Regions from separate parts of the Homo sapiens genome. Here regions 1, 2, 3, 4, 5 and 6 are each linked to region 7. The links come from fine-mapping of genetic effects on gene expression. A gene starts in region 7. Each other region holds a variant in brackets. All regions are shown on one strand. Distances are from middle to middle.

Evidence for each region. PIP is the estimated chance that this variant, and not a neighbour inherited with it, causes the effect.
Region 1: its variant is fine-mapped to the expression of CYB5D2 in blood mononuclear cells (TOPMed, PIP above 0.99).
Region 2: its variant is fine-mapped to the expression of CYB5D2 in whole blood (TOPMed, PIP above 0.99).
Region 3: its variant is fine-mapped to the expression of CYB5D2 in whole blood (INTERVAL, PIP above 0.99).
Region 4: its variant is fine-mapped to the expression of CYB5D2 in lung (TOPMed, PIP 0.99).
Region 5: its variant is fine-mapped to the expression of CYB5D2 in macrophages (Nedelec 2016, PIP 0.95).
Region 6: its variant is fine-mapped to the expression of CYB5D2 in whole blood (TOPMed, PIP above 0.99).

The regions. Positions count from the first base shown.
Region 1 is chr17:4,161,529-4,165,575 of GRCh38, reverse strand. ANKFY1 (ankyrin repeat and FYVE domain containing 1) reads left to right here. Exons shown (of 25, transcript NM_001330063.2): 25 at 1-1,755. Among named protein-coding and RNA genes, the nearest start is that of CYB5D2, 20 kb to the right of the region's middle. The variant C/T (reference allele first, on the strand shown) is at 2,037.
Region 2 is chr17:4,366,277-4,370,323 of GRCh38, reverse strand. UBE2G1 (ubiquitin conjugating enzyme E2 G1) reads left to right here and starts at 3,649. Exons shown (of 6, transcript NM_003342.5): 1 at 3,649-4,047. The coding sequence starts at 4,008. RefSeq lists enhancers at 528-577, 3,516-3,810, 3,630-4,047 and a silencer at 3,479-4,047. The variant A/C (reference allele first, on the strand shown) is at 2,103.
Region 3 is chr17:4,029,194-4,033,240 of GRCh38, reverse strand. ZZEF1 (zinc finger ZZ-type and EF-hand domain containing 1) reads left to right here. Exons shown (of 55, transcript NM_015113.4): 41 at 239-413; 42 at 983-1,115. Among named protein-coding and RNA genes, the nearest start is that of LINC01975, 54 kb to the right of the region's middle. The variant T/ATTTATTTATTTT (reference allele first, on the strand shown) is at 1,924.
Region 4 is chr17:4,068,970-4,073,016 of GRCh38, reverse strand. ZZEF1 (zinc finger ZZ-type and EF-hand domain containing 1) reads left to right here. Exons shown (of 55, transcript NM_015113.4): 25 at 261-409; 26 at 2,093-2,333. Among named protein-coding and RNA genes, the nearest start is that of ZZEF1, 72 kb to the left of the region's middle. The variant C/T (reference allele first, on the strand shown) is at 1,784.
Region 5 is chr17:3,991,005-3,995,051 of GRCh38, reverse strand. No RefSeq gene overlaps it. Among named protein-coding and RNA genes, the nearest start is that of LINC01975, 16 kb to the right of the region's middle. RefSeq lists an enhancer at 1,206-1,335. The variant G/T (reference allele first, on the strand shown) is at 2,333.
Region 6 is chr17:4,096,370-4,100,416 of GRCh38, reverse strand. ZZEF1 (zinc finger ZZ-type and EF-hand domain containing 1) reads left to right here. Exons shown (of 55, transcript NM_015113.4): 10 at 3,717-3,808. Among named protein-coding and RNA genes, the nearest start is that of ZZEF1, 45 kb to the left of the region's middle. The variant A/G (reference allele first, on the strand shown) is at 1,591.
Region 7 is chr17:4,141,025-4,145,071 of GRCh38, reverse strand. It overlaps CYB5D2 (cytochrome b5 domain containing 2), which reads right to left and starts at 1,875. Exons shown (of 4, transcript NM_144611.4): 1 at 1,067-1,875. The coding sequence starts at 1,316. It overlaps ZZEF1 (zinc finger ZZ-type and EF-hand domain containing 1), which reads left to right and starts at 2,042. Exons shown (of 55, transcript NM_015113.4): 1 at 2,042-2,530. The coding sequence starts at 2,177. RefSeq lists enhancers at 1,027-1,606, 1,177-1,729, 1,757-2,066, 1,730-2,281 and a silencer at 2,147-2,316.

The DNA.
Region 1 (4,047 bases), 21 kb before region 7:
TTTCCACAGACTTAGGAAGCCCCCCGACCACGCGGACGCTCGCTGGGCTGCACTCAGCAGGCTGCTTGAGTGGGAGCTGACTCCAACATGCCCTGCCCTGGCTGGGACTAGGCATGCTTCCAGCCCTTCCCGTGCTCTCCCTGCTGTCAACACTTGCGTACAAACCTGCCTAGCTGTTGTAAGTTTTCATCAGTAGCTTAAGTACTAGTAGCAAAAACTTAAATTCATTCAGAAAGTTGCCACTTCTGAATGAGTAGAGCAGGAAAAGTAAACTTTACTGAAACATAATTTGCTGCAACAGTCAACATTGTTATGCTGAATGTGCTCTCAACTGCCCTTTGCTCATCGCCAGATTTATTATCCAGTGTATTCCTAACAGTCTTTTGTTGTCGTTGTTTTTAAAACAAAGGTACGGACCATGTGCTATATATAAATCGAATGGCTTAAACTAATTTGCTATGATCCTCTAACACCGAAATTTCCCATAAACTTAAGTGCCTACACTTAGGACTTTTGAACTTTCAGTCATCTTTTTCGTGGTGTCTCACTGAACGATGTGTTAGAACATGTGTTCCATTTGGAGTTTTGGGCCTGTGCACGGTCAACCCCAATTACCAATTTAGTTGAGGCTGGATTCGATTGCTCAGTTCACCTGCCACGTTCTCTCCAAGGAGTGGGGTCTACGTGACCTTTAGTCCTCTACCTCAGAGCCCCGAGTCATTTCTGACCACCCCGTTCTGTGTCCTCACTCTTGTCCCTGAATGGGTCCCTGTGTGGATCTCAGTGTGTGTGTGGTTTCTCCACTCCTCCCCGCTCATGTCCCACACCTGCCATATTGAACCGTTTCTGCACTAATCTTCTCCACGGGCACGGAGTGGAGGGAACGTCTTGGGAAAGGGGAGAGCTTGACCTCCATCTAGGTTTCTTTTATCTGGAGAAAAAGAACACTTTTGAACTATGTAATGCTTCACCCTGAAAGGCAAGCTAACGCTAACTTCCCAGGTGACAGTAGCAGGAACAAGGAAGGGTAATGTTTCCATGACAGACACTTGCTTCCCTTGGGACAAGTCCCAGAAGAACTACCTGAAGCACCAAAGCTCCCCACCCCAGCCTGGTGGCAGAGGAAGCAGGTGGCACCAACTCACCAAAGGGACTTGGGAGCCACCTTCTCACTCTGTGGAAGTACTTTAGTGAGAGCTGACTGGCAAGATAAAAACCCTGAAATTCCCAGAAGTTACAGATGCCTTAAAGACTTTCTTTGGAAGATCATTGCCTGTACTATTCCTTTTTTGTGTGGCATAAATAATATATTAACCTGTTACAACTGACAACATTGGTTTTCTGCAGCTAGGGAGTCTTGAGTCGAGACTGCTCGCCTTGATGACTTGCTCTTTTTTGGCAGATGTGTGGAGTTGGCTGTTACGACATCCCTGTGTGATCCCAGAGGAGGGGCAGTAGCTGGGCAGAAACTGCAGGCACACATTTGGGTGGATCACCTGGCTTCCAGCCCCTTCGGGGTGGTGCTCAGTGTGGGGTGATGGTATCATAGAGGACCACGGCGCTTATCAGCATTGTTTCTTTGGAGTCTGTGTAATGGAATGTATTTTTCAAATACTGATATTTGCATTTTCTGTAACAATTCCTTATAATAAAATGAAGTAAAATTGTGCATTTAAAGTGGAAACTTTAATAAGACATTTGTAGTTACTTCTAATGCAGAAGTACCAATAAGCATTAAAAACAAATTTTAGAAAACTCCTGACGTGAATAAGTTTCTTGACCAGCTGCCCTCCAGAAAGTTTGAATTCCAACATTTTTCAGGAACATGCTGTTGACAGCAGTAAAAGTAGCTATTTTATGTATGTATTTTTAATTTTTAAAAGTTTCAGTAGGTTTTTGGGGTTCAGGTGGTGTTTGGTTACGTGAGGTTCTTTAGCGGTGATTTCCAGGATTTTGGGGCACCCATCACCCAAGCAGTGTACACTGGACCCTTTTATCCCTCACCCCAACCCTTTCCCCTGAGCCCCCAAAGTCCA[C/T]TGTATCATTCTTAATGCCTTTACGTCCTCATGGCTTAGCTCCCGAAAAGTAGTTATTTTAAACATACTAGCTGCCTGAACTTACTGTGCCCTTGGCCCAGATTTCAGCTCATAGCACCGAGCGTGATCACTGAGGCAGTCTCAGTCACCGTCACCTGACCCCTCTGAAGTTCTCAAGAGGATCCACTCATGAGGAGCTTTCTGCTGGCCGAGGCGTGAAGGGCGACTGGCACTGTGGGTTTCAGAGAATGCTAAGGACAGTTTCAGGCCTTGCAAATTAAAACCTAGTGATCCATAAAGCCCCTGTACAAATCACTACCAATCAAGCAGCTCACGTGGCCCTCACGCTGTCCTGAGCAAATGTATTCCCTTTTTCCTGTCTTCCATTTTGCTTACCCCTAGGTCAGACTAGCTGTGGTGATTGATAGAGCTCATAAAGCTCATTCTCCAGTGGCTTTTCTCCTAGTTAATATGCATGTGAAGTGTTTCCACAGGACAATCCCAAGTAATCCTCACAGCTGCCCTTGAGGCGAACAGTGCTAACCACGCTGTCACTGGTTATGATAAGCGAAGCACAAACAGTAACCAGGCACATCAACTTCCACACGTTTGCCCAGCCAGGGAGAGCACTGGGTTTTAGTTCTGCTTTTTTATTCATGAGCTGAGAGTTCTGGGCGAGTTTCCTAACTTCTTTGCCTCTGTTTCCCTATCTACATAATGGGGGCGGGACTGTAGTCCTTAACTGACAGGGTTGCCTGGAGGAAGGTGATCAGTAATGTGTCCTTCTCATCCAAGTACCCGGATTCTGGTGTGTGCACCGCAGGCTCTTCTGGCAGTATCTGCTGCCACCGGAAGAAATCTGGGGGCTCTGGCAGTAGGAAGTACTCTCAAGGCTAGGGTCCAGCCTAGGGTTGTTGCCCTTCTCTGAGGCACCCACAGACTTCTGAGCAGGCACAGTCCTAACCTCCCCATTGGGGCCAGCTTTCAGAGTACAGCTTTGCCTAGAGCAAAGTGAGTGTGGGGCGGGGCGGGGGTCACGCAGTGGCTCAGCTGTGACCAAAAAACGTCAGACTCTTCACTCTTAGATGTTTATAGAAAACTGTAATCTCAGAATGAAAAGGCAAATGTTGAAACTTCTTTCAAGATGACTTCTTTATTTTTGGGTTTTGTTTGTTTGTTTTGGGAGAGTCTCTCTCTGTCGCCCAGGCTGGAGTGCAGTGGTGTGATCTCGGCTCACTGCAGCCTCCACCTCCCCAGTAGCTAGGACTGCAGATGCGTACCACCACACCCAGCTAATTTTTGTATTTTAGTAGAGATGGGGTTTCACCATGTTGGCCGGGCTGGCCTCCATCGAACTCCTGGCTTCAAGAGATCCGCCCACCTTGGGCTCCCAAAGTGCTGGGATTATAAGCGCCCGGCCTCCTTCACAATGTTGGAGTGGAGTGCAGCTGCAAAGGCTTTGCCTTGACACTGTGCTCACTGGTGTGGCAGAGATCAGACTCGCATCACAAAGCCCAGCTCTGTCACCCGACGGTTGATGTAACTATTAGAAGAGGTGGGGAGATATTTATGCCCCTTTTCTGGGCCATAAAATGGGAACTTCTCAAGGCAGGCATAGAGATTAAATGAGAACAAGGCCTGGCCCAGCATAGTTGCCCAATATGTATGTTTTCTCCTTCCCTTCCTTCTGCCAGCAAGTCTAACTGCATGCTCAGCCTAAGCTGAGCTTATCTGTGGCTTCCATCAGGGCCTTGCCCTTCCTCCCCCATGGTTTTGCCCAGGGCCACCTGTACTGGAGAGGGAAAGGCCAGGCATTTCTCCAGTAATTACCAGCTTCTCATGGCTGAGCCCTTCAGGCCATTAAAATGACAACCTACTCTTGCTGAACCTAATTCTTTGCTGAATCCTTTGCCCTGACATGAGAGATGTGTTACCAGATTAAGTAGGAAGGTAAGTACCATAAGGTAAGTATCAAAAAGGAAATGAATTCTCAACTGAGCAAGGAACAGAG
Region 2 (4,047 bases), 230 kb before region 7:
AATCACTTGAACCCGGGAGGCGGAGGCTGCAGTGAGCCGAGATCGCACCACTGCACTCCAGCCTGGTTGACAGAGCGAGACTCTGTTTTAAAAAGAAAAGAAAAAAAAAAGTGGTACACAGAATGGGGTCTTGTTGGTGTGGAAGAGCTGTGTGGCGTGAACGCTAAAGCCAGTAAGCTGGAAGGATAAGGAATGGTGGTCAGGGTGCGTGGCTTGAAACCAAGTACTGGGGTGTGGTGGAATTTTGGGTGGCGAGACTGTCCCACGGGAACACGGAGAGGCCAGCTGGTGGGAAGGGAAGGAGAGGAAGTCAAGTGGTGAGAGGCAGGGGTACCGGACGGGTCATTCATGTGGGTAATTAGGTCCCCAAGGTGGAGGGCTGGAGTAGAATGAAGAGAAGGGCTCTGAGGCAGGAGGAAAAGTCCATGATGAATGGGTCTGCAGGTCACAGCACCAAAGGGGAGTGGCAAGTGCTGCAGCTGGATGGCATTAACCTCAAAAGCAAGAGGGCCCAGGTGCAGTGGCTCACGCGTGTAATCCCAGCACTCTGGGAGGCCAAGGCGGGAGGATCGCTTGAGACCAGTTTGAGACCAGCCTAACCAACAAAGCGAGACCCACTCCTTGGACTTGGTCTGTCATACCAATGGCACCCAGTCACCCGGGTCAGGAGAGTCACCTGTGGTGCTCCCTGCTCTTTCCTATATCCCATAGATCACCAAGGCCTACATATTCTTTGTTTTTTCGTTTTTTGTTTTTTTTGAGACGGAGTTTCACTCTTGTTGCCCAGGCTGGAGTGCAATGGCACAATCTCAGCTCACAGCAACCTCCCCTTCCCGGATTCAAGCAATTCTCCTGCTTCGGCCTCCCAAGTAGCTGGGATTACAGGCATGCACCATCACGCCCGGCTAATTTCGCCTTTTTTTTTTTTTTTTTTTTTGAGACAGAGTCTTGCTCTGTCGCCCAGGCTGGAGTGCAGTGGTGCGATCTCGGCTCACTGCAACCTCTGCCTTCTGGGTTCAAGCGATTCTCTTGCCTCAGCCTCCCAAGCAGCTGGGACTACTATTAGCTGGCCACCACGCCCAGCTAATTTTTGTATTTTTAGTAGAGACGGGGTTTCACTATGTTGGTGAGGCTGGTCTTGACCTCCTGACCTCGTGATCCACCTGCCTTGGCCTCCCAAAGTGCTGGGATTATAGGAGTGAACCACTGCCCTAGGCCCTAATTTTGTATTTTTAATAGAGACGGGGTTTCTCCATGTTGGTCAGGCTGGCCTCGAACTCCTGACCTCAGGTGATCTGCCCGCCTCGGCCTCCCAAAGTGCGGGGATTACAGACGTGAGCCACCTCGCCTGGCCACCAAGGCCTAAATATTTTATGGACACTCCTTAATCCAAGTCTTAGTTACTGCCACAATCTCCATAAGGGTCTCCAGGCTTTAAAAATTTTTATTAAAATTTTAAAATGTTTATTAAAAAAATATTTTGGGCTGGGCATAGTGGCTCATGCCTGCAATTCCATCACTTTAGGAGGCTGAGGCGGGTGGATCACTTGAGCCCAGGAGTTCAAGACCAGCCTGGCCAACATGGTGAAACTCTGTCTCTACCGAAAATACAAAAATTCTCCAGCCATGGTGGCACAGGCCTGTAATCCCTGCCACTCAGGAGGCTGAGGCACGAGAATCACTTGAACCAGGGAGGCAGAGGTGCAGTGACCTGAGATTGTGCCACTGTACTCCAGCCTGGGCGACAGAGGGAGACTGTTTCAAAACAAAACAAAACACACTTTTTTGTAGCGATAGGGTCTTGCTCTGTCACCCAGGCTAGTCTCTAGCTCCTGGCCTCAAGTGATCCTCCTGCGTGGAGTTTCCAAAGAGCTGGGATTACAGATGAGAGCCACCACAGCCTGCAGGGCACTGGTCTTGACCCTCCCTCCCTCATCAATTCTCTGCAGCCACAGCAAAACATTCAAAATGCAAGTCTGCTATTTTTCTACTCCTAGTTAAAACTTTTCAGGGGCCTCCCACTGTTTAAGGATTAGGTTCAATTTCTAAACCTTTATCCAGCCCTGATCTTTCACCAGATTTGGAAATTATTACAAAAAATA[A/C]ATCTTTTTTTTTTTTTTTTTTACAAAAAATAAATCTTAAGAAACTAGGAATAGGCCGGGCACAGTGGCCCTTGCCTATAATCCTAGCATTTTGGGAGGCTGAGGCAGGCGGATTGCCTGAGTTCAGGAGTTCGAGACCAGCCTGGGCAACATGGTAAAACCCCATCTCTACTAAAATACGAAAGAAAATTAGCCTGGCCTGGAGGCGTGCGCCTGTAGTCCCAGCTACTCAGGAGTCTGAGGCAGGAGAATTGCTTTAACTCGGGAACCTGAGAGGCAGAGGTTGCAGTGGGCCAAGATCACGCCACTGCACTCCAGCCTGGGCGACAGAACAAGGCTGTCTCAAAAAATAAATAAATAAATAAATAAAATAAAAAAGAAAGAAACTAGGAATAGAAGTAAATTTCCTTGATTTGGTAAAGTGAAATATCAAAATGGTCCCTTTGGTCTATTTGATAGGGGGCAGTGGTTCACACTTGTAATGCTAACACTTTGGGAGGCCGAGTTGGAAGGACTGCTTGAACCCAGGAGTTTGAGACCAGCCTGGGCAACACAGAGAGACCTCTGGCCCCCCCCTCCTTTTTTTTTTTTTTTGTGAGACGGAGTCTCTCTCTGTCGGCCATGCTGGAGTGCAGTGGCACCATCTCGGCTCACTGCAATCTCTGCCTCCTAGGTTCAAGCAATTCTCCTTTCTCAGCCTCCCTGGTAGCTGGGAGTACAGGCGCCTGCCACCAGGCTGGGCTAATTTTTGTATTTTTAGTAGAGACCAGGTTTCACCATGTTGGCCAGGATGGTCTCGAACTCGTGACCTCAGGTGATCTGCCCACCTCGGCCTCTCAAAGTGCTGGGATTACAAGCATGAGCCACCGCGCCCCGTCAAACCCCCCGATCTCTATAAAGCAAATAAAAAAATAGCAGGGCATGGTGGTGTGTACCTGTAATCCCAGATACTAAGGAGACTCAGATGGGAGGATCCCTTAAGCCCAGGAGTTCCAAGCTGCAGTGAGCTATGATCACTGCACTCCAGCCTGGGCGACAGAGAGAATTGCCGTCCATAAATGATAATAATAACAGGGCCGGTCTCGGTGGCTCAATAATAATAGGGCCGGACGCGGTGGCTTTTTTTGTGCACTCTTCATGTAAAGTGAGTTATCATCATATATTGCCTCTATTTTGATGTTTGGTTAAAATGGGGCACACCAGTACTAACTTCGGCTTTCTAACAATTCCTACTTCGCACACCATGTGGCAGTGTTAGATGGCTTTTGGGCGCTCGCCAAGGACTAGACATCTACCACTTCTTCTGGCCTCTTCGCTCCTATATCCACTGCTTCAATCCAGAGGCTGTATTTGACCCTCTGCGACCTCTTTGTCATGGCGTCCGCGGGGCGTCTACCAGCGGAGGCTTGGGCTGGCAGCCGGGCGTCGACCTTCCCAAAATGGCGGCGGACGGGACAACTGCGCTCAAGGGGCGGGGTTCCGCCGCCGGGGGCGGGGCGGGAGGCCGAGGGGTCGGGCTAGCGGGCGGGACGCTTCCCAAGTCGGCAGTCTCAGCGCGCCTGCGCCGAGCGGCCCTGCGCGCAGTGAGGCAGTGGCGGGGGAAGGCACCGGTGGGGCCGACGGGCGGGTTGAAGGAGGGAAGCGGGCGAGCGAAGTCCCAGTGCGCGCCGCGGCAGCCCGGGCACCCTCCCCTTCCGGGCGTGAGTCGCTGTGAAAAGAGCTGAAGCGAGCGGACTCGCACCGGCAGCGAGGCGCCGCTCCCGCCGCCTCAGCCCGGCCTTCCTCGGCTCCGGCGCTCCGGTCGCGGGGCCCGGGTTCCTCGGCACACCCCGCTCCAGCCGCCCCCAGAGCCTGTCCCCAGCCCTTCGGAAGCCCCGGCGCCAGCCCGGGCCCTCGGCAGGGAGGATGACGGAGCTGCAGTCGGCACTGCTACTGCGAAGACAGC
Region 3 (4,047 bases), 110 kb after region 7:
GGTGATTTTTATAGATATTTTTGGAAACACAGCCGTAGGGTGAGTATGTAAGTAACAAGTCTTGATTTTGTTTGCTCTTTTACTCACCATTATACGAAAAGCATTATTCTGGTAGTTTTTAAGCTAGTTAATGAATGGCTCTTTGAAGGCTTCTGGGTCTGCCTTGGAGTGTAGTGAGCTCTAACGAGTTGAGTTTGGAGCCCTGTGTACTGCCCCTAATGGAGCTCTTGCCTTCCAGCCGGGTGGGCTTGGACTGGGCGTGCTCCATGGCAGAGATCCTGCGGTCACTCAACAGTGCCCCACTGTGGCGTGATGTCATTGCCACCTTCACAGACCACTGCATCAAGCAGCTGCCATTCCAGCTGAAGCACACCAACATCTTCACCCTGCTCGTGCTGGTTGGCTTCCCCCAGGTACCACACTCTGAAGGCCTGAGGGCCTGGTCACCCCTTCCAGTCTTCACTATACACACCAAAGCCTCTGTGGCTTCCGGATATATAGGCATAGATCTCTTTGGAAGCTTTTTCCTTTGCCTGTACACCTTGCTTTTGTAGTATTGAAGTATTGTCAAGATTATGGGATGGTTTATTCAACTTGCATTTTTAACGGTTAAACATTTGATTCATTTATAGCCAGTAGTTGGCTTTGAATAATAGGTGACTGTAATATATCAGATTACAAAGAACTTCAAAGAAAATTGTCTTTCATTTTGGCATTCACCTTGACCTTATTTCTAATCTTCATGTCCCTCAACTGATTAGGACAAAGGGGGCTGTAAAAACATGGCCTCATCCAGCAAGGACTTAAACCAATTCTGTGCCAGCCTGTGGCAGACTCTTTGGACTTAGAGATGAGAAGATCCCTATCCTTGCGTGCTTGTTGAAATCAGAGGCACAATCAAAGGGGGCTGGGCTTATGCCTAAGAATTCTTTCTTGTCTCCATGTTTGAGTTGCCTTTCTGTCTCTGTCTACCACGTTCTAGGTCCTCTGTGTGGGAACCCGCTGCGTTTATATGGATAATGCCAATGAACCCCATAATGTGATCATCTTGAAGCACTTTACTGAGAAGAACAGGGCTGTGATTGTTGATGTCAAAACTCGGAAGAGGAAAACAGGTACCATGCGTAATTATTTTTTTCTAAGAATGGAAGAAAAATGCCTAATCCCTCCGTACCCTAAAATCAATGAAATTACCTTGGCTCTTGGCCTGCGTGTGATTTTTTTAAAGAACAAGTTATAGCTCCCCGAGCTTCTTTTTCCTTATTTCTGAAATGATGTATTGAATTGGGATAATTTCAAAGGCCCCTTTCCATGCTGTCTTTTTGTGTATATGGCTCTGTGTTTTTTGGTTGGCTAGATATATAGGTTCTGAACATTTAATTTCTCCATTTGCTGGTGTCATTTGCTTTCTATGGGTAATTTAAACATATTTTGGAGTCAGGTGACTACATGGAGTCAGGTGGCTGCACTTAAAATAATTGTATTAGAATTCATGTAACTTTCCATTTTGTTTTATCAGTATAACATTGAAAGTATTATATCACAAATGCCCTTTTGACTTAGTTTGCCAAGGCCCAGGCAATCTGGAGTATCTACCCATTACATTCCCAGTTCTGCTCGTGAAGCCATCTGCATTTTCACTCAGCATCAGCATTAGGCAGTGTCTGTGCTGTTTTCGTGTATGTAAATGTCTAAGATCTTTTCTTTTGCGTATGAACATCCATTTGATCCAGGACCATTTGTTGAACAGGCCATCCTTTCTCCATCCAATTATCTTGGAATCTTGTCGAAAATTGACACACATGTATCTGTCTATTTATGGATTCTATTATGTTTCATTAATCTATATGTCCTTACTTCAGTACTACACTTTTTTTACTATTGTAAATTTATTTATTTATTTATTTATTTATTTATTTATTT[T/ATTTATTTATTTT]TGAGACCAAGTCTCACTCTGTTGCCCAGGCTGGAGTGCGGTGACACGATCTCAGCTCACTGCAACCTCCGCCTCCTGGGTTCCAGCGATTCTTCTGCCTCAGCCTTCCAAGTAGTTGGGATTACAGGCACGTACCACCACACTTGGCTAATTTTTTGTATTTTTAGTAGAGATGAGATTTTACCCTATTGGCCAGGCTGGTCTCAAACTCCTGACCTCAGGTGATCTGCCTGCCTTGGCCTCCCAAAGTGCTGGGATTACATGCATGAGCCACTGCGCCCAGCCTAACGTTTGTATTTTTAGTAGAGATGGGGTTTCACCATGCTGGCCAGGCTGGTCTCAAACTCCCGACCTCAAGTGATCCACCTGTCTCAGCCTCCCAAAGTGCTGGGATTACAGGCATGAGCAACCACATCTGGCCAGACTATTTTAAATTTGTATAAAATTTTGAAATCAGGTCTTTCAGCTTTGCTCTTTTTCAGAATTGTTTTGACTCTTCTAGTTTCTTTGTCTTTTTGTGTAAGTTTTAGAATCAGCTTCTATAAAAGAGTTTCTATCAGTTTCTATAAAAGAGCCTGCAGGAGCCAGGCGCAGTCGCTTACACCTGAAATCCCAGCACTTTGTAGAGACCCCCATCACTACATAAAATAAGTAGCCAGGCGTGGTGGCATGCTGTAGTCCCAGCTACCTGGGAGGCTGATGTGGGAGGATCACCTGCAGTGAGCTGTGATCTCCACTATAGCCTGGGCAACAGAGCAAGACCCTGTCTCAGAAAAGTATATGGCCTTCTGGGATTTTGATTGGCATTGCATCAAATCTATAGATTAATTTGGGACAATACCTTAACCAGACAGATGTTCCTCAGTTTATAATGGGGTTATGTCCTGATAAACCCATTATAAAGGTTGAAAAATCATTACGTTGAACCATTGTAAGTCAGGGACTTCTATATTGAGTGCATGGTACATCATTCAGTTTATTTAGAGAATAAATTTAGGTTTCTTTAATTTCTCTCAGCCTGGCATATTGGGGTATGAGCCGTCTTCTCTTATTTTCTGATTGTGGCAATTTATGTCTTCTCTTTTTGTTTCCTAGATAGTCTAGCCAGAGATCTGTCAAGTTATTTGATCTTTTCAAAGGACCAACTTTGGTATCATTCATTTTTCTTTTATTTCTGTTTGCTGTTTCTTTGATTACTGCCCAGATAAATTTCCTTATTTCTTCTGGCTTTGTGTTTAATGTGTTGTTACTGCTTTTCCGGTTTCTTTTCTTTTCTTTTTTTTTTTTTTTAATAGGATCTCAGCATGTTGCCCAGGTTGATCTCAAACTGCTGGGCTCAGGTGATCCTCCTGCCTTAGCCTCCCAAAGTGCTGGGATAACAGGCATGAGTTACCACACCTGGCTGCTTTTCTGGTTTCTGTCTTTTTTTTTTTTTTTTTTTTTGAGATGGAGTTTTGCTCTTGTTGCCCAGGCTGGAGTGCATTGGCATGATCTCAGCTCAATGCAACCTCCACCTCCTGGGTTCAAGTGATTCTCCTGCCTCAGCCTCCTGAGTAGCTGAGATTACAGGCACATGCCACTATGCCCGGCTAATTTTTGTATTTTTAGTAGAGACAGGGTTTACCATGTTGGTCAGGCTGGTCTCGAACTCCTGACCTCAGTGATCCACCCGCCTCAGCCTTCCAAAGTGCTGGGATTACAGGTTTCTTAAGGTAGGAGCCATCACTGATTTGAGACCTTTCTTCCTTGGCAATAGAAGAATTTTAATGTTGTGCATTTCCTTTTAAGTATGACTTTAGCCACATCCACTATTTTTTTTTTCTTTTTCGGTGTCCCTTGGATTCAGTAGGAACATCTCACAATTTTTTTTTATGATATATTGTCATTTTCATTTAGGTCACAATATATTTTCCAATTTATCTTGTGATTTTTTTTTTCTTTGCTCTGTGGATTATTTAAAAGTTTGATGTTTAGTTTCTTAATATTTGGGGGATATTCCAGATATCATTTGGTTGTTGATTTCAGGTTTAATTCCCTTGTGGTCATAGAGCATATTTTTAATTAGTTCAGTCCTATTATGAATATTATTACAATTTGTTTTATTGTCCAAAATTAGGTCTGTTT
Region 4 (4,047 bases), 72 kb after region 7:
CTATAAACAGATTAGTCATTTCCAAGGTACCTTGTAACTGAAGTTGTTCCACAGAGCAGCAGTATTTCAGGACTTGGTGGTTTAGCTTAATCTGTGGTATGTGTTTACAAAGTATCACAATTACATTCTGGTATGTGGGTAAACTTTCTCTAAGTTTTAATAGTATCCATGGTTTTTTTTAACCTTTTCTTTCTCATTTCAAAGATTCTCAATATATTAAGGCAAAAATAGAACTGTCATATGTCTTCTTCTCTTTCTAGAGTTAGGAAGTAACATGGTAGTACCTCAGGCAAAAATGGCATTAGTCCTAAGCTCCCCACTGTGGAAACCTGTCTTCAGGCATCAGGTTTGTCCAGAGTTGGAATTAGAAGCAAGCTGGCCCACTCACCCACACCGGAATAGTAAGGAGGTATTTACTCTTCCGTTTTCTTTCTATTTAGACTGGAAACTGCCTGCAAGTATTTATTACTTTAAGTTATAAACACTTGTGTTTCTATCTTACTACCCGTATTAAGCAGTTAGCTCCTTGAGGCCAGAAACTATACCTTGTTAACTTGTTAACGCCACCGTGTCCCACAGGGGCCAGTGCGCAATAGGTGTTCAGAAATACTGAATGCGTGACTTGGGTGAAATGTAGGAGGTGCTCAGTAAATCTCTGTTGATGGAGTTATCAGGCAAACAATTGAGTGTACTTCTAGTGCCTACTGAGTCAAGCTTTAGAGCAATGATTTGTGCTATACCTTTTGTTCTCCTTAGAATTACAGCACATGATTTAGGTGTATAAGATTTTAAAAACTAAAAAGTTTGCCCTGTCTTTATTTTTCACCTCTCCTTCCCTCTATTTCTGTATTCTACTTTTCTTCCTTCCCCTCCCTGCCCTGCCCCACGTTATTCAGTAGTTAATTGCCAAATCCAGTGGCTCTTCCTCAGCTTCTGTTCTCCTTGCCTCTGTTAAATTTGGCTCCTTCAGACCCTCTCTTCTTTGGATCCATGCTAGTCCGCTGTCTTCTCTTACATCTGACTGCCCACTTGCCTCCTTCATTGACTTTTCATATTCCTCCTTCCCTAAAGGGTAGGCTTTATTCAGGCTTTCTTCCCTTCCCCACAGCCCACCAAGACTTCATCCTCTCCACTTTCTTCTCCTGTCAAACATTGTGGCCCTAATTCCTAATATCAGTCTCCAGGTCTGGTTTTCTCCCCGCTCCAAGTACCTGTTTCCATCTTCCTGTGAGGCATTTCCATTTAAATGTCCTGACTCCCCTTAACTCAGAAGTGTAAAACCAAAGACCGGTCACTTCTGTGGTGGTCAGTGTTCCCCAGGCCTGAAGCCACTGCTCCCTAGCATCCCCTGTCCTCACCTGTCTCCCCATTCCTGTCCAGTCAGCTTGCAGGTCCTGTGGATTCTTCCTCATGATGTTCATCTCTGTCCTTTCCTCTGTCTGCATCTTTATCCGGGCCCTCATTTGCACCTGCCTTATGACATTCGTACCTACCAAGTTTTTTTTATAATCACTGCATTATCTTGTCATTCCACTGCCAAGCACCATTAATGGCTCCCCATTGCCCACAGGGTGAAGTCTAACTCCTCAATGTGACAGTCAAGGCTCTCTGCAGTCTCCTTTCACCTTACCTATCTGACTCTAGTTCCCATCACTCCCCAGCTGAGACTTCAGGCCAGGTCAGTCTCCCCACTGACTCGTAACCTCTGCTAATGGTTATGTTCCTCAGAGCCAAATCTGCCAATCCTTCAGGGTCCAGGCCAAAGCCCATATCCTCCAGGAGG[C/T]TTTTCTTAATTACTTTAACCTACCAGGATCTCTCTCCTTTGAATTCTCAGCACTGGGTATCCCTTCTAGGCATTTGGCACTTGATAATCTTTTGCTTTACGGGAATGCTAGTTCTAATGCTTTTAATGTTTTATTTATGTTTATCTTTTTTTAACTCATATCTCTGTCTGGTCTTCCTAAAATAGATTTAAACTTCCGGAGAGTGTTCACTGTGTTTTATACTTCTGCTTTGGCCTAATAGTTTGCTCAATAAATTTTATTTTTTGAATGAATGTGTTAAATGTGATGGGTTTATTTTTTGTTTCCAGGTTAAGAACATTCCTGACGACCCCTGCCGCCATTTTCTTCTTGATTTTGCCCAGTCAGAGCCTGCTCAGAACTTCTGTGGGCCATATTCAGAACTTTTCAAAGGATTCATACAGGCATGTAGAAAACAGGCCCCAAAGACAGATATAGTTGCTGGTTCCACTATTGATCAAGCTGTGAACGCCACCTTTGCTGCTCTGGTGTATCGCACTCCAGATTTATATGAGAAGCTGCAAAAATATGGTAACTTTATTACAGGGAATATTTTTGATCTGAAGGCTAATTGCTAAGTTTTAAGAAAGCCTATCTTAAGTGAACATTTAAAATATTTTAAAATATAAACACATTTCTATAACTGTAAACATCATCTTGTTGGTTCTACTTTGCCTATTAAAAGATTCATGGCCACTTTATGGTTAGCAGATTATAATGTGTGGCACCTAACCTTGAGTTGCAAAATTAGCAGGTAAATTATCTTTATCCAGAATTCTCATGGAAAACTGCTGAGAAATTTAATGGAAAGAAACCTTAACTTGGGTCCTGGTCCCAGTGCAAAAACTCAAAAGTTGTGCAGCTTCAGGTTAATCAGACGACCTTTCTGCACCTCAGTTTCTTTATCTGTAAAATTGGTTTAAGGGTGATTCGCTCTAACATTCTAAGAAATTCCAATTAAAACCACAGATGTTTAAGTTCTTGAATGTAGTAATAACCAAGGAGGAAGCTGTAGGTATTAACTATTACCTTTAGCTAGCTTGCAGCGCCTTCGTAGCATCACCCCACTAGGCTTCCTTTGCTGATAACCTTCTCCTCACCATCTCTTTTCCTCATGTCTCTTAGGGATGCCATCTCTGTATTTACCCTGCTTCCCTGCCGCCTAGCAGGACCCACACGGAGGGAGAGTCTCTCTCTACCTTCATACTAATTCAGGGGAAAAGTGTTTCAAGCCCTACCTAGAGATAAGGCATGGGCTTCCTAACCGCCTGGCAGGGTATGTCTTCTCCACGCAGCGCAGGCGGGAGAAGCAAAAACAGAGCTTCCTTCCACTAGAGTGGGTAATTGACTGTTGCTCATTTTGTTTTGTTTTGTTTTACTTTTTGAGACGGAGTCTCACTCTGTCACCCAGCCTGGAGTGCAGTGGCGCGATCTTGACTCACCACAACCTCCACCTCCCGGGTTCAAGCGATTCTCCTTCCTCAGCCCCCCGAGTAGCTGGGATTACAGGCACCCATCAACACGCCCGGCTAATGTTTGTATTTTTAGTAGAGACGGGGTTTCGCCCTGTTGGCCAGGCTGGTCTTGAACTCCTGACCTCAGGTGATCTGCCTGCCTCAGCCTCCCAAAGTGCTGGGATTACAGACGTGAGTACCGCGCCCAGCCTCGTTTTGTTATTATTGATATTTTTATTCCTACCACCTTTATTGCTCATTTCTTTGGATCTCACATTGCAGAATTTATTTTCTGATTGTTAAAACATCTTGATTACATCCCCAAATCTTAATATCTCCTTTAAAAAGCTGCTCAAATAAACAAAACTGTGTTGAGACATGAGTGATTTATGGAAACAAATGTCATATGGAAGAGTTTTTCTCTGCTGAGGAATCGAGGGGGTGATGTAACCTGTATGGTTTTGGCGGGGGGAATGTCAATATGTATTTTTGTAATCAAATTATAGTAAGAAAGCTGGATAATCTTTTTACTTGAAGGAATTTTCAGTAGAGGGATAAAAGCCTGTGGGTTAAAAGCTGAGAAATGGAAGGCTTCCTGCTGTGGGAAACTTCAGGCTGTGTTCAGATACCACATACCTGTTTGCAGAAGAGAAAACACACAGTCAACTGTGGGAACTCTACAACTGTGGGAACTCGGAATGTCTTGCTGTGTGCAGGTTGTTTCTAGAATGCCTGCCATTATTGGTTTGAAGGAGGCCAGGCTTGTCTTAGTTCTTTCTGTCTCTGCCTTT
Region 5 (4,047 bases), 150 kb after region 7:
TAATGAAAAGCTGGATGCTTTCTTCCTAAGTCAGGAACAGCACAAGGATGTGTACTCTCAGCACTTCTATTCAACATTGTAGGGGAGATTCTAGGTAGGACAATTAGGATAGAAAAAGAAGCAAAAAGCCATCCAGTTTAGAAAAGAAGTAAAACTATCTCTATTTGTAGGTAACCTGATCTTCCATATGTAAAATTTTAAGGAACTCAGTAAAAAATTACTGAATTCCAAGAGGCAGGGTTCATGGGGGCATCTTGGAGGCTACCCTCCCCAGTGCCAATTCTTCTCTTTCTTCATAGCATTGATCACAATGTGTACATATACTGACATGGATTTTTTGGTATCAGCATCCCCCTATTAAACTGTAACACTAATAAATTCAGCAAGGTTGCAGAATACAAGATTAATACACAAAAATTGATTGTATTTCTGTACATTTTCAATAAAGAATCCAAAAATGAAATTAAGAAGATTCTATTAACAATAGCATCAAAAAGAATAAAATACTTAGACATAAATTTATCAAAAGAAGTACAAAACTTATAGCATGAAAACCATGAAACATTGTTGGAAGAAATTAAAGATCTGCCATGGCTTGGATGTGGTTTGTCTCTGCCAAAACTCATATTGAAACTTAATTGCCAATATAATGATGTCAGAACCTTTAAGAAGTGGAGTCTAATGAGAGGTGTTTGGGTCATGGGGGGGTTCCACTCTCACAGGCCCCTTGGTGCCATTCTTGTGGTAGTGAGTGAGTTCTAGCTCTTGTGAGACCGGATTTGTTCTCATGGGCATTTATAAAAATGTTTGTTAGTATTTTGTTGAGGACTTTTACAAATATTTGGCTTGCTAGTATTTTGTTGAGGACTTTTGCATCCACACTCATAAGAAACATCTCATGAGAATGTGAGAGTGGGTTGTTATAAAGCCAGGACAGCCCTCAGGTTTTGTTTCTTCACATGTGCTCGCTTCCCCTTTGACCTTCTGCCACATTTTCATGCAGCAGGAAAGCCCTCACCAGAAGCTGAGCAGATGCCAGTGCTATGCTTCTCGAACTTCCCAGCCTGCAGAACTGTGAGCTAAATAAACCCCTTTCCTTTATATATTATTCTTTCTCAAGTATTCTGTTGTAGCAACATGAAGCAAACAAAGATAATATATAAATAAGCAGAAAGTAACATCCCATATCTGTGGATCAGAAGCGTTAAATTTGTTAAGATGGTAGTACTCTCCAAATTGATCTACAGAGGGAAACCCAGTGACTTACAAATTTAGTGGCCTGTAACAACAAACATTTATTATCTCAGTTTCCGTGGGCCGGGAATCCAGGCACAGCTTAGCTGGGCGTCAGTGGCTCAAGGTTCTCACGAGTTGCAGTCATATTGAGACTTGGCTGGAGCTAACAGATCTGTTCACTCACATGGTGGTTTGCAGGCTGCAGTGTTTCGCAGGCTGTTGGACTGAGGGCCTCTCAGTTCTTTGCCATGCCACATGGGCTTCTCCATAAGTCAACTCACAACATGGCAGCTTACTTCCCCTGGCACAAGTGATCCAAGAGCAAGACCACCCAAACTGGAAGCCACAGTCATTTCTTTTGAGACAGGTTCTGTCTCTGTCACCCAGGTTGGAGTGTGGTGGCACAATCATGGCTCACTGCAGCCTCAAACTTCCAGGCTCAAGCCATCCTCCCACCTCAGTCTCCTGAGTAGCTGGAACTGCAGGTACCTGCCACCACACCTGGCTAATCTTTTTATTTTTTGTAGAGTCAGGGTCTTCCTATGTTGTCCAAGCTGGTCTTGAATTCTTGGGCTCAAGCAATCCTCCTGCCTTGGCCTCCTAAAGTGCTGGGATTACAGGTGTGAGCCACTGTGCCCAGCCAGCTACAGTCTTTTTATAACCCAATCTCAGAGGTCACACTCCAACACTTTTGCTTTAGTGTCTGTGATCATCAAGTCAATGAGTCCTACCCCCATACAAGGGGAAGGTACGAAATAAGGGCTTGAATTCCAGGAGGTAGGGATCATGGGGGATCGTGGAGGCTGTCCTCCACAGCGCCCTTTATTATCTTTCTTCACAGCACTGATCACAATGTGTACATATACTGACATGGATTTTTTTTTTTTTTTTGTATCAGCATCTCCCTGTTAAACTGTAAGCTCCATGGTGGCAGAGACAATATCTGTTTTGTTCATCATTTTGTGCCCAAATTAGAGCACAGGGCCTGACTCGACAGGCACTTAACAAATATTAGTTGTGTCAGTTAGTTGGGAATAATAAATATCTTTTACTTTTATTTATTTATTTGTTTATTTATTGTTTTGGTGGTTTTGGG[G/T]TTTTTTTTTTTTTTTCCGAGACAAGATCTCAAAAAAAAAAAAAAAATGTTGAGATCTGTCATTCAGACGGAGGGCAGTGGTGCCATCGTGGCTTACTGCTGCCTCAACCTCCTGGGCTCAGGTGATCCTCCCAGGACAGCCTCCCACGTAGCTGGGACTACAGGTGCACGCCACCATGGCCAGCTCATTTTTGTTGTTGTTGTTGTATTTTTTATAGAGACAGGGTTTTGCCATGTTGTCTAGGCTGGTCTCAAATTCCTGGGCTCAAGCAATCCACCTGCCTCAGCCTCCCAAAGTGCTGGCATTGCAGGCATGAGCCACTGTGCCTGGCAATCTTTTCCTTTTAGACAGCCTCTCCCTGTTTGTTATTTAGGTTGACAGTTGAACGAATGGATTTATAAATATTTATTTTTGAATAAACATAGAAAATGTTGACTGGGTGCAGTGGCTCACTCCTGTAATCCCAGCACTTGGTGCGGCCAAGACGGGTGGATCATCTGAGGTCAGGAGTTCGAGACCAGCCTGGCCAACATGGCGACACCCTGTCTGTACTAAAAATACAAAAAAAAAACAAAAGAAAAAATTAGCTGGGTGTGGTGGCGCACGCCTGTAATCCCAGCTACTCGAGAGGCTGAGGCATGAGAATTGCTTGAACCTGGGAGGCGAAGGTTGCAGTGAGCTGAGATTGTGACACTGCACTCCAGCCTGGGCTACAGAGTGAGACTCTGTCTCAAGAAAGAAAGAGAGAAAGAAAGAAGGAAGGAAGGAAGGAAGGAAGAAAGGAAGGAAGGGGAAGGGAAGGGAAGGAAGGGAAGGGAAGGGAAGGAAGGAAGGAAGAAGAGAGAGAGAAATAAAGAGAAAGAAAGAAAGAGAAAGAAAGAAAAGAAAAGAAACTGTCTAATAGCACAGGTGAGCAGTGTGGAGTGGTTCTGTTTGAGGATTGGGCACGGGATGAGAGAGGAGAAAGCATTTCTACCCTCCTCTTATCCCTCTGCATTGTTGGAATCCTTAACAATGAGCAAATGTTATTTTCACAATCAAGATTTTAATAAAACAAATGATCCATAAATAATAAATAAAAATAGAAGACAAATGACAAACTGGAAAAAATTTACAACAAAAGGTTATTTTCTATAATCTACAAGGAGCCCTTGTAAATCAATAAAATAAAGATAAACCCACCGACAGAAAAATGGCCAAGAACCAGAAACTGACAATTCCCAAAAGAAAAGATACAAATGGCCAATAAGCAGATGGTAAATGTTCACCTGGAGGAGTAATCAGAGAAACGCAAGAAAAAAACAAGAGGAAGGAGGAGGAAGGGAAGAGGAAGGGGGATGGGAGCAGGAGGAGGAGGAGAAGGAGAAAGAGGATACAAAGAAAGAGAAATATGAGCATGAGAAAGAGGAGGAGGAGGCCGGGTGTGGTGGTCCAAGCCTGTAATCCCAGCACTTTGGGATTACAAAGTGGGCGGGCGGATCACCTGAGGTCAGGAGTTCGAAACCAGCCTGGCCAACATGGTAAAACCCCGTCTCTACTAAAAATACAAAAATTAGGCAGGTGAGGTGGTGGGCGCCTGTAATCCCAGCTACTTGGGAGGCTGAGGCAGGAGAATCACTTGAACCTGGTAGGCGGAGGATGCAGTGAGCCAAGATCGTGGCATTGCACTCCAGCCTGGGCAACAGAGTGAGACTCTGTCTCAAAAAAAAGAAAA
Region 6 (4,047 bases), 45 kb after region 7:
TGGATTTGTTATTTTTGCCATGTGCCTGAGAAACACAAGGGTGGGATGTGAATGGGTGTGGGGAGCACTGGGTTCCTCCTGCTCACTCCCTCCAGCCATCACTATCTATTGCTTGTAACTCAGGGTTGATGTCGGTCTCTCTTGCTGCACTGCAAAAAGTAACCCTTAAGGGACAAGACAAGAGGAAAGTACTCATGGCCAGAGCTGTTGGGTTTGGGGGTGATTTTTTCTTCCCCTTATCGGAGTAAAAGCTCTTCTCATGGGTACACGTCTGATTCTCCAACAGTGGGGAAGTACCACTTTTGGACAAGTGCCACTGCAGGGCCCACAGAATGCCCAGAGAACTCAAACGCTGATACTTCAGGGGGCTAACGTTCCTGGCAGTCACCACTGTCACTTGGTCTGGTATTTTAAAGGAATACTGGGTGCTCCTGATAGGAGCAGAAGTGGTAGATTTATTAAGTCCTTTAAATCTGATTGGTTATTTTTTTTTTCCCTGTTATCTAAAAAGAATAAATTGGCAAGTGGAGGGCAGGGTGTCAAAACTTATAGATTTAAAATATCACAGTTCAGCTGGGTGCAGTGGCTCACACCTGTAATCCCAGCAATTTGGGAGGCCGAAGCAGGCAGATCACCTGAGGTCAGGAGTTCGAGACCAGCCTGGCCAACATGGTGAAACCCCATCTCTACTAACAGTACAAAAATTAGCCAGGCATGGTGGCAGGCACTTGTAGTCCCAGCTACTTGGGAGGCTGAGGCAGGAGAATTGCTTGAACCCGGGAGGCGGAGGTTGCAGTGAGCTGAGATTGCGCCATTGCACTCCCACCTGGGTGACAAGAGCAAAACTCTGTCTCAAAAAAAAAAAAAAAAAAATCACAGTCAAACCTGTGAGCTAGGCTGGACACAGTGGCTCATGCCTGTAACCCCGACACTTTGGGAGGCAGAGGTGGGAGGATTTCCTGAGGCCAACAGTTTGAGACCATCCTGGGTAACATAGTGAGATCCAGTCACTACAAAAAATGAAATAAAAAATTAGCTGGGCATGGTGGTGTTTGCCTGTGGGCCTACTTAGGCTGAGGCAGGAGGATTGTTTGAGCCCAGGAGTGTAAGGTCGCAGTGAGTTATGATTGTACCACTGCACTCCAGCCTGGGCAACAGAGCGAGACCCTGTGTCTAAAAAACAAAAGAGAAAAATGAAAAAAACCACGTGAGCTGATTTCTTACCAAGAAAAGGAAGCACAGAAGTTTTATTTTTTTTTTTAAGGTTTTGTTTTTGTTTTGCCTTTCTGAAAAAATGTCATTGCATATTTGGTGGCAGTGTTATTTTAAAAGAGTCTATCCGATTCTGTTGACTTAAATTATTGCTTCTGCTACTACATTGAGACTAACTAAAATTGCTGATTTATCACTTAACTTTTAGACAATAGTTTAGCCTTTACATAGATTTCTTTTACATAGAGACATCCAGGGCTCTGGGAAAAGGTAAGAGTTCAATAATTGGGATAGTTCTTAGTATTACTGTTAGTGGAGTTGTGTGAATTGTTGGTAGTATGGATTCTTAAAATTGCCTATAGAATTGCTCTTTCATAG[A/G]ACTAGATCATAGAGCGTCTGTGTGAATTAGAGAAGTTTCCTTTGGATTTAATTTTCTTAGTTTTGGTGACTCATTTTGCACATTGTCTTTATAAATTTTTGTTGGCTTGAACTCCATGTAATGAAACAGGAAGCATGAAATTGGTTTTAGTCTTGTCATTTTGATAGGCAGAATTGTTAAGAAAATTCAGAGTCCCAGAAAAAAAAGCTTATTTATTGCTGAGTTATATCATTTAGAGACGTTTGAAAGAGAAAGGCAACCTTGGGTCTAGCAGAAGACTTTTTCATGAGTTGTTAAAGGATAATTACCAACAATCAAAAAAGGAAAATAGTGACTGTCATACAAATATAAGTGAACACATTCATACTTTTAATTTATTTACTTTAATTTATTTATTCATTCATTCATTCATTTGAGACAGGGTCTCACTCTACTGCCCAGACTGGAGTGAAGTGTTGTGATGATAGCTCACTGCAACCTCCACCTCCCAGGCTCAAGCGATCCTCCCACCCTGGCCTCCCAAGTAGCTAGGATTGCAGGTGTGCACCACCGTGCCCAGCTGATTTTTTTTTTTTTTTTTTTTTGAGTTGGAGTCTCACTCTGTCACCCAGGCCGGCTGGAGTGCAATGGTGAGATCTCAGCTTACTGCATCCTCCGCCTCCCGGGTTCAAGCGATTCTCCTGTCTCATCCTCCTGAGTAGCTGGGATTACAGGTGTGTGCCACCACGCCCGGCGAATTTTGTGTTTTTAGTAAAGATGGGGTTTTCACCATGTTGGCCAGGCTCGTCTCGAACTCCTGACCTTAAGTGAACTGCCTGCCTCAGCCTCCCAAAGTGCTGGGATTATAGGTGTGAGCCACCACACCCACCTTGATTTTTGCTTTTTTTTTTTTTTTTTTTGGTAGAAATGGGGTCTCACTGTGCTGCCCAGGCTGGTTTTGAGGCTCAAGTGATCCACTGGCCTCAGCCTCCCAAAGTGCTGGGATTACAGGCATGAGCTACTGTGCCTGGCCCAGACTTTTTATTTAGCTCATTAATTAATGAGGGAACCAGTAAGATGTTACAAACAGTTCTAAGGAGAATTCATAAAATACATGTAGACTAACAAGAATGCTAAAATTAATTTACAAATAGATAGAATGTTGGTCAGTATCCATAAGGAATAATCAGCAACATTTCCACAGAACACAGTGTTTAGTTCTGTGGACAAGAATCATGTGCATCACTACCAGTGTTCTACAACTTACAGAATTGTAAAATAGTTTAGAGACCATAAAAGGCAGAGACGACCGAAAGGGTATGTTGGCTAGGACACCCAGTGATTCTTTTTTTTTTTTTTTTTTTTTTTTCCCATTTCAAAGCCTTTCATAACCTTTCCTGACAAAGTGTTGTAGAAGCTAACTAATCCCTTTCTCAGCCACTAAGCCAGTAGGCTTTATCAGCCCAGGCAGCCATCAGCCATGGTTGTAGGTGTGGCTCAGGAAGATGATTGATTGTCCAGTCTTTTGTCGCTTTGGCTTAAATGTTTTATAAACATTTCTTTTCTTTTTCTTTTTCTTTTTCTTTTTTTTTTTTGAGACGGAGTTTCACTCTGTTGCCCAGGCTGGAGTGCAGTGGCACAATCTCCAAGCTCCGCCTCCCGGGTTCACGCCATTCTCCTGTCTCAGCCTCCCGAGTAGGTGGGACTACAGGCGCCCGCCACCACACCTGGATAATTTTTTGTATTTTTAGTAGAGACGGGGTTTCTCCGTGTTAGCCAGGATGGTCTCCGTCTCCTGATCTCGTGATCCACCCGCCTCGGCCTCCCAAAGTGCTGGGATTACAGACGTGAGCCACTGTGCCCGGCCTAAACATTTATTTTCTTATTGTTACCTCAGAGCAGGGCTGCCTGTGAGGTGGAGGGGATTGTGCCCTGGGAAAGTTGAACCTGGTCAGTTCTCTGCTTACCTGGGGCTTTATCATCGGGGTTGCCTCTGTCCAAAGAGGACATTTTTCTCTAATTTTCGTGAAGATATCAGACCAGTTACCCCCCATGACTCAAAGGATATGGTTTGTTTTTGTTGATCTTAGTTCTTAGGGCTATAAAAATGGGTTAGTTCCCTAACTTGAGTTTTCCCTTTTTTCAGGTTTTCTTACGGAAACTGGAAAAACCAGAGCCAGCACTATTTTTTCTACCGGAACTGAATCTGCCTTCCAAGTTACACAGATAAGAATTATGGTAATTTTCGTGCTACCTTCTTTAAGCAATGTTACTACTTTTGTTTTCAATTTTTATGGGTACATAGTAGGTATATATATTTGTGGGGTACATGAGGTGTTTTGATACAGGCATGCAATGTGAAATAATCATACAGAGGATGAGGATGAGCTATTCATCCCCTCAGGCATTTAGTCTTTGTGTTATAAACAATCCATTACACTGTTGTAGTTACTTTTCCATGTACAATTAGGTTATTA
Region 7 (4,047 bases):
GCTCACGCCTGTAATCCCAGCACTTTGGGAGGCCAAGGTGGGCGGATCATAAGGTCAGGAGATCGAGACCATCCTGGCTAACATGGTGAAACCCCGTCTCTACTAAAAATTCAACAAATTAGCCGGGCGTGGTGGTGGGCGCCTGTAGTCCCAGCTATTCGGGAGGCTGAGACAGGAGAATGGCGTGAACCCGGGAGGCAGAGCTTGCAGTGAGCCGAGATCAGGCCACTGCACTCCAGCCTGGGCGACACAGCGAGATTCCATCTTTAAAAAAAAAGCACTAGACTGGTGGTCCGAGTCCATATTCTGTCAGTATTCAGGTGTGAGGGTTTCAGGCAAATCGCATCCTTTAACCCCCTCAGCTGTAACACAGGGACACCAGCATAAACTTAATTTGACAAATGTTTCTTGAGGCCTAACATATGCACAACTTTGGTCTACGTATCAAGGACTGTAAAGGTGACTGGACCCCTTTCCTCTGCCCTAACCTTCTAAGGAAGGCAAACAGGTGCATCTTGTACTAGAAGCAGGAATGACTCAGACCAAATGTACTATATGACGGGCCATAAAGGAATAAAGTATTGATGCATGCTCATAAACCATGGATGAACCTTGAAAACACTATGCTTAGGGGTGGGGGGAAGAAAGATTATTTGGGACCAGGGCATAATGAAGAGATGGTTGGAATTATTAAGGAAACTGTGAGGGTAGGGGCGGGGCGGGATCTCGTTTATCTGTGCCCTAAGAGCCCCCACAAAAGTCCGGCACACAGCCCGTATCCTAGGGCTTCCGACGCTGGGTAATGGGTAACAAGAGACAGAAGACATGTTTCTCCAATGTAAGTCACGCAGGGCGGTGGTGGATGACAGAGCTGGCCCACAGTCCCGCCAGAGCCAGAGAGCCTAGAAGGATAGTGCATGCAGCTCGTCCCGCCCACCGCACGGGTTTGATGGATGTGGGGTGGGGATGGGGGGGGAAATAGATGAATAATGAACCAACGAACGACGCGCAGGTGGCTACTGGCTCGCGCCAGCGGAGAGAAAGGCGTGAGCAGCCTCGCTGATACCTGCGAAGCCGCTATAGTGGGACCCAGGCTCGTAGTGCCTCCGGCCGGAGGACACATCGTAGACACGGCCGAGCAACGCCAAGTACAGGCCCGGGTCCCCTGGGCCGCCGCGGTAGCGAGACAGCTCCTCCGGTATGAAAAGGCGAAAGCCAGCGCGGGGACCCCACCAGCCCATAAGCCGTGCTGCCATTACCGCTGCTGCGGCTACAGCCAGGCCCAACAAAAGCCCACGGCCTCCGCACCTCAACATCTATATAGGCCCACCCGCTCCGCACTTCCGAGGTTGCCGCCTCTATCTACAGCTAAGATGGCCGAGACGCCGAGCGTGACGTCATCGGCGCGCGCGCTCTCGCTCTCTCTCTCGCGCGCTAGTGCTCGCGCTCCCTCCCTTAGTCTCTCTCGTTTTATCTGTATTCCTGGCACTGGCGAAAAGCTCGCTGTCTGCGACTTTTTCCAGGTACTTTTTTTTTTTTTTTCTGAGACAGAGTTTTAGCTCTTGTTGTCCAGGCTGGAGTGCACTGGCGGAATCTCGGCTCACTGCAACCTCCGCCTCCCGGGTTCAAGCGATTCTCCTGCCTCAGCCTCCCAAGTAGCTGGGATTACAGGCACGCGCCCCCACGTCCGGCTAATATTTTGTATTTAGTAGAGACAGGGTTTCACCACGTTGGTCAGGCTGGTCTCGAACTCCTGACCTCAGGTGATCCACCCGTCTCGGCCTCCCAAAGTGCTGGGATTACAGGCGTGAGCCACCGCGCCTGGCCCTTCTCGTACTTCTTGGCTTGCAGGTTGTCAGCCCCAACAAAGATGGCGGCAGCGGAGGCTACGGAATGACGTAGATACTGAGACAGACTCGTCCTCTGGGAAATCAAGGTTGCACCCTTTGAGGCGGCGCTCCCCGCCTAGCTGTCGTGAGTTGGTAGAGGCCGCCTATCTACGTGACGGCGCCTTTGCGACAGCGGTCGTCGCTTGACGGCCAGGAAGCCGGAAGCCGCAGGGGCCGCCGTCGTCTCCTCCGCGTCCCCGCCCGCCAGCTGCTGTCGGAGGTTGACAGGTCGAGGCGGGGAGGCGGCGGCGGCGGCTGCAGAGCCAGGCGCCCAAGACGGAGACCCCATGGGGAACGCTCCGAGTCACAGCAGTGAAGACGAAGCGGCAGCTGCCGGTGGCGAGGGCTGGGGCCCACACCAGGACTGGGCCGCGGTCTCGGGCACGACCCCCGGCCCGGGCGTCGCGGCTCCAGCGCTACCACCCGCCGCGGCGCTGCTGGAGCCGGCCAGGCTGCGAGAGGCTGCTGCAGCGTTGCTGCCCACACCCCCCTGCGAGTCGCTGGTGTCGAGGCATCGCGGCGCGTTGTTTCGCTGGCTGGAAGAGCGGCTGGGCCGCGGCGAAGAGTCTGTCACTCTGGAGCAGTTCCGGGAGCTGCTGGAGGCTCGCGGCGCCGGCTGCTCTAGCGAGCAGTTCGAGGAGGTCAGGGCCGGCAGGCGACTGCGGGGATGGGGCAGGGCGGTCGCCCCCAGGGGACTGAAGGAAGAGGTGGGCATTTGCTTTGGAGAGGCCAGGCGGGGACCCATATGAGGTGTTTCCAGCTTTTCACCAGGCGTTTGCTTCGTTTCTCTTTAACCTATGTTAGAGGTCTGGAAAGTCTGCATCAGGCCGTCCTTGCTCTGAAGAGCTGGACAAGCCCATATGTCTCTCTCTGTATGTTGTAATGCAGACCTTTGTGCAGTTGATTGACGCTACTCTGGAGATCTTCTATCAGATTCTCGAACAGTTTGGAGAGAAAAGAGATGTAAGGATAGGAGGAGTGGCGCTGAGAACCATTTTTTGTATTGTCCTGTCCAGGTTTTTACACAGCACCTTCCCAATTCAGTGTGGGCGCCGAATAAGTGTGGAAAGACAGTAGTAACATGCTGGAAAGGCTCACATTCTAAAACCTATCCTCCTCATGCAAAAACTAGCTTTTCTAAAATACATACTGGTTTGTAGATCCTTAAAGAACCATATATTAGACTCATTTAAACCTTCATAGGATCCGAAACTGATAGGCAAATACCAGGTTTCCTGTGAATACTTGTAATTATGCAGTTCTTCATATAATCACCAAGATCATGTCTGCTAAGTCATTAAGAGAGCAAATTGATTTGGCAACAAAATATTTTCCTTGGAAGGCATTTTGGGAGTTTATTTACTGGGCGCTTCACTTCGAGTTAAGAAGACTGATCCAGGGTTACCCAGTGAATCATTAGTAAAACAGACTATCAACTAGATCTCTTGCTTTTTTTTTTTTTCTTTCTTTCAACTTTTATTTTAAATTCAGGCGTACATGTGCAGGATTTGGATTTGCAGATGTATTACATAGGTAAACGTGTGCCATGGTGGTTTACTCCACACAGCATCCCATCACCCAGGTATTAAGCCCAGCATCCATTAGGTATTCTTCCTGATGCTCTCTCTCCCTCCACCCGCACCCTATTTTTTGTTTTTAATGTCTCACTACCTCCTTCCTGGGATCCTATTTCTTTTAACACCACGGTATGACCAAAAAGGTACTTATTTTGTGAAAATGAGTTAGCCAGTCATGTAGAATCTTCAGTGGCCACGAAGGGTGTGTACATAAAGCAGTAAACCAGCGGGTACTTGCAGTGCCTTTAAAAGGTTCTGTTCACCTTAAAATCAGAGGCTTTTAAAATATTTTAAGAATGTCTTCCTGTACATGGCCAGAATTCAGATAATGTAGTTTGTGTGTTTCTTATGAAAAAAGTACCTTTAAGGCATCCCAACCCTTAAAAATAATAGTCATGGCTGGGCGCAGTGGCTCACGCCTGTAATCCCAGCACTTTGGGAGGCTGAGGCGGGAGGATCATCTGAGGTCAGGAATTCAAGACCAGCCTGGCCAACGTGGTGAAACCCCACCTCTACTAAAAATACAAAAATTAGCTGGGCATGGTGGCGGGTGCCTGTAATCCCAGCTACTTGGGAGGCTG